Linked DNA regions of Homo sapiens: region 2 is linked to region 1. Evidence: fine-mapped expression QTL. A gene starts in region 1. The other region holds a variant in brackets. All regions are shown on one strand. Distances are from middle to middle. Region 1 holds the start of YJU2 (YJU2 splicing factor homolog). Region 2 has its middle 7.3 kb from the start of SHD.

What was found. PIP is the estimated chance that this variant, and not a neighbour inherited with it, causes the effect.
Region 2: its variant is the best candidate, but not a certain one, in a credible set for the expression of YJU2 in whole blood (TOPMed, PIP 0.51).

The regions. Positions count from the first base shown.
Region 1 is chr19:4,244,903-4,249,287 of GRCh38, reverse strand. It overlaps YJU2 (YJU2 splicing factor homolog), which reads right to left and starts at 2,208. Exons shown (of 8, transcript NM_018074.6): 1 at 2,118-2,208; 2 at 1-60. The coding sequence starts at 2,141. RefSeq lists enhancers at 2,049-2,138, 2,479-2,618, 2,377-3,148.
Region 2 is chr19:4,269,775-4,274,159 of GRCh38, reverse strand. No RefSeq gene overlaps it. Among named protein-coding and RNA genes, the nearest start is that of SHD, 7.3 kb to the left of the region's middle. The variant C/T (reference allele first, on the strand shown) is at 2,535.

The DNA.
Region 1 (4,385 bases):
GTCTTTGGGGAGCTTGAGTTTGGGGATCTTTGATGGGTCAAAGTCCGGCGGGTAGTATTTCTGCAGGGGAGGAAGGAAACGTTGGGGGAGTTATTTTCAGAAGCAGGGGCAGGACATGGCAGAGGGAAGGGGCTCTGGGGAGCTGTGTCGGGGGTCCCCAAGCCCACCCCAGGTTCCGCGACAGGCAGGGAGGACTCGCAGGACTCAGTACAGTCAGAGGGAGGCCAGGCACAAGCTTCCTGACTCTCTCCTAGTGGAGTTATACAGGACGCATTTAATTCTCCTAAATACCAGTCATGACAATACACATGAAATGCTGTCTACACGGGAAGCTCTAAAAAGCCAGGGTTTGTTTTTGTTTTTGTTCTGAGACGGAGTTTTGCTCTTGTTGCCCAGGCTGGAGTCCAGTGGCGCGATCTTGGCTCACTGCAACCTCCGCCTCCTGGGTTCAAGCGATTCTCCTGCCTCAGCCTCTACAGTAGCTGGGATTACAGGCGCCCACCACCACTCCCCGCTAATTTTTGTATTTTTAGTAGAGATGGGGTTTCACCATGTTGGCCAGGCTAGTCTCGAACTCCTGACCTCAGGTGATCCACCTGCCTTGGCCTCCCAAAGAGCTGGTATTACACACGTGAGCCATCATGCCCTGCCCTTTGTAGAGGTTAAGCTTTGCTTAGCACTTCTGTTGTTCAGGCAGGAGACCGAGTTCCCCGAGGAGTCCCAACTCCCCAGCAATTCTGTAGAGGGTAAACCAGGACTCTGTTAGCTCAGCCTCCCAATCACGATACTACATCCGTTTCCTACAGAGTCATCTCCCTGGATCTGAATCCTGAGGAGCTGAAACCTGCAGGGCTCAGTTTACTCCTCTGTGAAATGCGCACACTGTCCTCTGTCTCCAAGAGTCTTTGCACGCATTCCTTGAGGCAAGGGGGATAAAGTGCTCTTTGCAGTGTCTGGCACCCAGTAGGTGCTCCAAACACAAAGTGCTTTATTTTCCAGTGGTGCAGTGGAGGTATCTGTCATAATCCATACTCACACTCCCTTTGTATCCCAGGGCTCCTGTTTCCCAGGAGTTCCTACAGCAAGCCTGAGACTGCTCTCCTAGAAAGACCTGCGTGGGGCCGGGCGCGGTGGCTCACGCCTGTAATTCCAGCACTTTGGGAGTATGAGGTGGGTGGAATGCCTGAGATCAAGAGTTCAAAACCACCCTGGGCAACATGGTGAAATCTCATCTCTACTAAAATACAAAAAAAATTAACCAGGCATGGTGGCGGGCGCCTGCAGTCCCAGCTACTCAGGAGGCTGAGGCAGGAGAATCGCTTGAACCCAGGAGGCAGAAGCTGCAGTGAGCCAAGAACGTGCCACTGCACTCCAGCCTGGGAAGCAAGCGCAAAACTCCATCTCAAAAAACCAAAAAACAGAAGTGTGCCAACAGTATAGTTTATACTGAACCTCTGCTTTTCTTCTGGGAGTCTGGAATCTTGGCCACTGTCAGGCAGAGGTTATCTGCATGACCAGACCCCAGTAAAATCTTGGCCACTGTAAGGCAGAGGTTATCTGCATGACCAGACCCCAGTAAAAAAAACAAAACACACACACACACACACACACACACACACACACACACACACACACACACACACACACACACACACACACACACACACACACACACACACACACACACACACACACACACACACACGCGCCACCCCACCCCACCCCACCCAAAGTACACGATTGGTTACAGTCCCCAAGTGGGGCGGGGCTTCTCAGAGCCACGCCCCTCAAGAAGAGGGCAAAACACGGCCGCCAGCATTTAAGGAAGCCCCGCCCCCAGAAAAAAAACCCTATCTGGTGGTGATTGGGTAAAAGCCCAAGCCACGCCCCGCAGGTGACTAACTACACCCCAGCCCAGAAGGGAGACTTAGCGAAGGCCCACCCCCCCGACGGAAGGCGATGGGGAGGAGTCTAGGGAGGAGTCTGGGAAGCCCCATCTCGCGGAAGGCCGCTGGGAAAGAAGGGTTCCAAAGAAGAGATCTCAGGAAGCTCCTCCCTCTCCCGGAGTTCCGGGATGTCCTGCTCCGATTGAAAAGCCCCAGTCGCCCAACACTTACGTTTAATACTTTTCGCTCCGACATCTTTGCCTTCTGATCACCTCGCAAGCACCTGAGAAATGGTTAGGCTGGGTAATTATCGAGCTTTTCCGACGGAAGCCTTACTTCCGCAAACGTCACTTCCTTCGGCCGCTATTATTGGCTGCAGCATACACAGCAGACCTCTTTCATTGGTTCCAATCCCCGCCTATCAAGCTGGAAGTCCCAGCGTCTTCCCTCCGGAGTTGCAACCTGAGTAGCGCGAAATAAGGATTCCGGGAGCCATGTGGAATTGGAGAATTTTGTATAGTGCGCTGCGCCCCCTAGAAGCGGGCAGCGGCTCGTTAAAATTTTGTAACGTGACCTCTTGTTCTTCATTCTTTTATTCAGCAAATATGTATTATGCGCCTGCCTTGTATTCTGGGCTCTGGGAATCCACACATCGTTCCTGGGCCCGCAACTCTCACATGGGGTTGGGGCCACACATAGGGTGACTTAAGAGGACCCTGGACGACTCTTGAGTCACAGACATTGACTTAAAGATCAGGCTCCAAACCAACTTCCTAAACATACGCAGTGTCTCCCAAATGTCCCTCCATTGCCCACCTGTGCCTTCCCCTTAACGAGGACTTCCCATCCCATTCCTTCCCCAGCCTCCTTCCCCAGCCTCCTCCCCACCTTTCATGGACGTTTCCTCTGTGTCAGATTGTTCCAGGAAAGGGGTCCGGATCCAGACCCCAGGAGAGGGTTCTTGGATCTCGTGCAAGAAGGAATTCAGGGCGAGTCCACAGTGCAAAGCAAAAACAAGTTTATTTAGAAAGTAGATGAATAAAAGAATGGCTACTTCACAGACAAAGCAGCCCCAAGGGCTGGTGGTTGCCCATGTTTATGGTGATTTATTGATGATATGCTAAACAAGGGGTGGATTATTCATACCTCCCTTTTTTAGACCATATAGGGTAACTTCTTGATGTTGCTGTGGCAATTGTTTGTTTATTTATTTATCTTTTGAGGAGTCTTGCTCTGTTGCCCAGGCTGACGGGCAGTGGTGCGATCTTGGCTCACTGCAACCTCTGCCTCCAGTGGTGCGATCTTGGCTCACTGCAACCTCCACCTCAGGATTCAAGTGATTCTCCTGTCTCAACCTCCCGAGTAGCTGGGATTACAGGCACGCACCACCACACCTGCCTAATTTTTGTAGTTTTAGTAGAGATGGGGTTTCACCATTTTGGCCAGGCAGGTCTCGAACTCCTGACCTCAGGTGATCTGCTCGCCTCTGCCTCCCAAAGTGCTGGGATTACAGGCATGAGCCACTGCACCTGGCCAAAAATCAACTCCATCTTAAAATTAACAAGGCACATTCGCTGCCAGTCACGAGCCAGGGTCATAAGATGTTTACAATTGAGAAAACGTCTTACAAATGCCTAGGAGGACACACTACTACAACAATGGAAGGTCCAGATGTCCTGATATTGCATAGCAATGTATGCTTTTAAGATCGTTATAGTCGCCAGGCGCGGTGGCTCATGCCTGTAATCCCAGCACTTTGGGAGGCCAAGGAGGGTGGATCACCTGAGGTCAGGAGTTCGAGACCAGCCTGGTCACCATGGCCACCATGGTGGAACCCCATCTCTACTAAAAATACAAAAATTAGCCGGGCGTGGTGGCGGGAACCTGTAATCCCAGCTACTTGGGAGGCTGAGGCAGGAGAATTGCATGAACCCAGGAGGCTGAGGTTGCAGTGAACTGAGATCGAGATTGTGCCGCTGCCCTGTGGCCTGGGCGACAGAGTGAGACTCCATCTCAAAAAAAAAAAAAAAGAGAAAAAAAAGAAAAAGATACCGGGCATGGTGGCTTACGCCTGTAATCCCAGCACTTTGGGAGGCCGACGTGGGCGAATCACCTGAGGTCAGGAGTTCAAGACCAATCAGACCAACACGGAGAAACCCCGTCTCTACTAAAAATGCAAAATTAGCCAGGTGCGGTGGTGCAGGTCGAGAGTTCAAGACCAACCAGACCAACATGAAGAAATCTTGTCTCTACTAAAAATACAAAATTAGCCGGGCATGGTGGTGCATGCCTGTAATCCCAGCTGCTTGGGAGGCTGAGGCAGGAGAATCACTTGAACCTGGGAGGCAGAGGTTGCGGTGAGTCGATATGGCGCCATTGCACTCCAGCCTGGGTGACAAGAGTGAAACTCCATCTCAAAAAAAAAAAAAGAAAATATGGTTATAGTCATGGTGTAATGTACTTAGGCACTAAAATGGCAAGGATATGTATGTATACTTT
Region 2 (4,385 bases), 25 kb before region 1:
GGAGTGCAGTGGCGCAATCTTGGCTTCATTGTGTTAGCCAGGATGGTCTCGATCTCCTGATCTCGTGATCCGCCCGCCTCGGCCTCCCAAAGTGCTGGGATTACAGGCGTGAGCCACTGCACCTGGCCAGCTCTGCCTTTCTTAACTCACGGTCTGATGGCAGAGGCATGGCCTTGTCCACAGAAGCCCCCAGTCTGATGGAAGAGTTGCGGCTCTGACTTCAGGAGCTTCCATTTGATGGGAGAGATATGGCCCTACCTTGAGGGGTTCCCACTCTGAGGAAGGAGACGTGAACCTATCTTCAGTCTGATGGGGGAGGCAGGTTCAACCTTCAACGGTCCCCTGTCTAATGCAGGAGACATAGTCTTGACTTCCAGGGTCCCAGAGTAATGGAGGAGACATAGGCCTGCCTTCAAGAGTCCCCAGTCTGATGAGGGAGGCATAGTCCAAACTTCAAGCGTCCCCAGTCTGATGGGGGAGGTATGGTGTAAATTTCAAGGGCCCAGTCCAACACAGGAGGCATGGCCCTAACTAACTTACAAGGTCCCAGTCTGCTGGAGGAGAAGCGAGCCTTCCTTCTAGGGGCCCCTACCTGATGGGGGAGGCATGATCCAGCCCTTCCAGGGCTCCAGTCTGACACGCAGGCACAGCCCAGCTCTTGGGGTTGCAGTGGGGTGGGTGACCAAAGGCGTAGCCTCGGAGCCTGGAGCTTCATACCCAGGCCCTGTCCCTCCCTCACCCTGGAGGTCGAGGAGTCTCCCTTACCTGTAAATGGGGCAGCAACAGAGCGTGTGCCCGGGGGGTGTTTGTGGACTGAGTGGGTGGTGTCACCCCATTCCCAGATAAGGAAACAGGCTCAGGGAGCCCCAAGTTCACACTGGAACTGGCAAAAGCTGGGGAAATGGCATGGCCCCTCTTCTCCTGTAAGCCCAGGCTGGGGCGGCAGTGGGCTCCAGCAGAAGGGGCCCCCATCGCCCCTCCTCCCCATCCCTCTGATGTGCTCCAGCAGCCAGGCAGCCCCGGAGGAGTTGATGGAGATCTCAGATGAAGGCTGACAGCTCCCGAAGACAGGATGACAGACGCGGGCTGGTGGGGAACGGGTACTGTCGGCAGGGATAGGGGAAGGGCAGGCTTCAGAGGGTGAGGGTAGGGGGCCCTGAGAGGTGGGGCAGGGCAGGGAGGGGTCCCCCGCTGGTCAGGAGGGACAGAGCCCGATGCATGGCTGTGCCTGCCCCTCTACTCCCTCAGTCCTGGGAACCCCCAGGAGAGAACTGGGGGCTGAGAGCAGAATTGCCCCCAGGACACAGGGTGAGAGAACAAAGCTTCTCAGGGGAAAAAAAAAAGAAATAAAAATAAAATTCCAGTGGTGTATGAAAGAGTGGGGTGTGAGAGGGGAGGAGGTGAAACCTGGGGCTCCCTGAGCCTGTTTCCTCATTGGGGAATGGGGTGATGCCCCCTCAACCCATTTGCGAGCACCCACGATGTGCCAGCTGGTTTTGGGGTGCTGGGGTGCACCAATTTTTTTGAGATGGAGTCTCACTCTGTTGTCCAAGCTGGATGGAGTGCAATGGCATAATCTTGGCTCACTGCAACCTCTGCCTCCCGGGTTCAAGTTATTCTCCTGCCTCGGCCTCTGGAGTAGCTGGGATTACAGGCACCTGCCCCATGCCCGGCTAATTTTTGTATTTTTAGTAGAGACAGAGTTTCACCATGTTGGGCAGGCTGGTCTCAAACTCCTGACCTCAGGTGATACACCTACCTCAGCCTCTGAAAGTGCTGGGATTACAGGTGTGAACCGCTGCGCCCGGCCCGAATAAACTTCTACTGTTTATAATTTACCCAGTCTGTGGTGTTCTGTGAAAGCAGCAGCAAATGGACAAAGACACAAGCTGCAGACAAGGTCTGTGTAGGTAAGAAACTGAGAGTGTTTTCTGGCCAACAGCCATGAGGGACTGAATTCTGTCAACAACCACAAAGGTTTGGCAGCAGGTCCTTCCCCAGTTGAGCCTTCAGATGACACCCCAGCCTGGGCCTGTGTCTTTTTTTTTTTTTTTTCTTTGAGACGGGAGTCTCGCTCTGTCCCCCTGGCTGGAGTGCAGTGGTGCAATCTTGGCTCACTGCAACCTCTGCCTCCTGGGTTCAAGTGATTCTCCTGTCTCAGCCTCCCAAGTAGCTGGAATTACAGGCATGTACCACCATGCCCAACTAATTTTTGTACTTTTTTGTAGTGACAGGGTTTTGCCATGTTGGCCAGGCTGGTCTTGAACTCATGACCTCAAGTGATCCGCCCGCCTCGGCCTGTGAAAGTGGTGGGATTACAGCCATGAGCCACTGCGCCCAGCCTGGCCTCTGTCTTGATTGCATTCTTGCTAAACCTTAAAGCGGGAGACCCAATGAAACCACACCCAGCTCTATGTTGTTTTTAAGTTGTTCAGTTTTGGTATAATTTGTTATGCAGCACCAGAAAACAAACAGAGGGAGAGATGGGCAATAAACACGTTCCCAAGGCATCCCCTCTGCATCTCCTTAGAACA[C/T]ACTCACCTGCTTTATTTTCACCACCTTCGGTATACATTATTTATATGTTATTGTAAAAATATATAATACATAAAAGTTTTTTGGGGGCCGGGTGCGGTAGCTCACGCCTGTAATCCCAGCAGTTTGGGAGCTGAGGCGGGCGAATCACTTGAGGTCAGGAGTTCGAGACCAGCCTGGCAACATGGCAAAACCCCATCTCTACTAAAAATACAAAAATTAAGCCAGGCAGGGTGGCGCGTGCCTGTCATCCCAGCTACTCTGGAGGCTGAGGCAGGAGAATCGCTTGAACCCGGGAGGCGGAGGTTGCAGTGAGCCGAGATCCTGCCACTGCACTCCAGCGGGGGTGATAGAGTGAGATGCTGTCTCAAAAAAAAAAAAAATTAAAATTAAAATAAGAACGGGTGTTGGAAGTGGGAGTTCAACTTTGTTTCTGCCAAATGCTCAGGGAACATTTGATAAACACAGGTTCCTTCCTTCCCTCTGCCAACTCCTTCTGCTGCCCCCGCCGAGGAGGGGAACTTCCCAGCCAGAGCTTTCTACTCATAAAGCCAGTGAGTCCCATCCTTGTTGAGTATGTAGAGCGCAGCCCCTTTGAAGGCAAATTGTAGCATCTTTTTTTTTAATTAATTATTTTTTGAGATGGAATCTCACTCTGTTGCCCAGGCTGGAGTGCAGTGGCATGATCTCAGCTCACTGCAACCTCCACCTTCCAGGTTCAAGTGATCCTCCTGCCTCAGCCTACCAATTAGCTGGGATTACAGGTGCCCGCCACCACATCTGACTAATTTTTTTATTTTTAGTGGGGGTGGTGGGAGTCTCACCATGTTGGCCAGGCTGGTCTTGAACTCCTGACCTCAGGTGATCTGCCCGCCGTGGCCTCCCAAAGTGCTGGGATTACATGCGTGAGCCACCGTGCCCCACCTTTCTTTAAAAAAAGACAAATTGAGAAACGGTCTGGCCATGTTGCCCAGTCTGGACTCGACCTCCTGTCTTCAACCAACCCTCCTGCCTCAGCCCCCCAAAGTCCTGGGATTACAGGAACATGCCACAGTTCCTGTCCTGGGCCTAGCTCCCCACCCCCCTCCCCCTTTTTCAGGCAGGATCTTGGTCTCTCACCAAGGCTGGAGTGCAGTGGTACAGTTACACCTCACTGCAGCCTCAATCTCCCGGGCTCAAGTGATCCTCCCACCTCAGCCTCCCAAGTAGCTGGGATTCCAGGCCTGAGCCACCACACCCGGCTGGAATTCCATTATTTATGCCAGAGTTCAGCCTTCACCTACTGGGGACATTGGGTTCGTTCCCCATAATGTTGCTGCTAAACACAGTGTCACGACAAACCTCCTCGTGGGTGTTTCCTTATGAATGTGGGCAAATACCTCTTAGAACAGACAGCCAGAAATGGAACTGCCTACTCAAAGAAGGTTCATATTGTTCACTTTAAAAGATTCCAGGCTGGTGCAGTGTCTCACGCCTGTAATCCCTGCACTTTGGGAGGCTGAGGCAGTCAGATCACCTGAGGTCAGGAGTTCAAGACCAGCCTGGCCAAGATGGTGAGACCCGTCTCTACTAAAAACACAAAAATTAGCTGGGCGTGGTGGCAGGCACCTGTAATCCCAGCTGCTGGGGAGGCTGAGGCAGAGAATTGCTTGAACCTGGGAGGTGGAGGTTGCAGTGAGCCAAGATCACACCACTGCACTCTAGCCTGGGCAACAGAGGGAGACTCTGTCTCAAACAAACAAACAAAAAGATTGTACAGGCAGGGCACAATGGCTCAGGCCTGTAATCTTAGCACTTTGGGAGGCTGAGGCAGGCAGATCACCTGAGGTCAGGAGTTCAAGACCAGCCTGGCC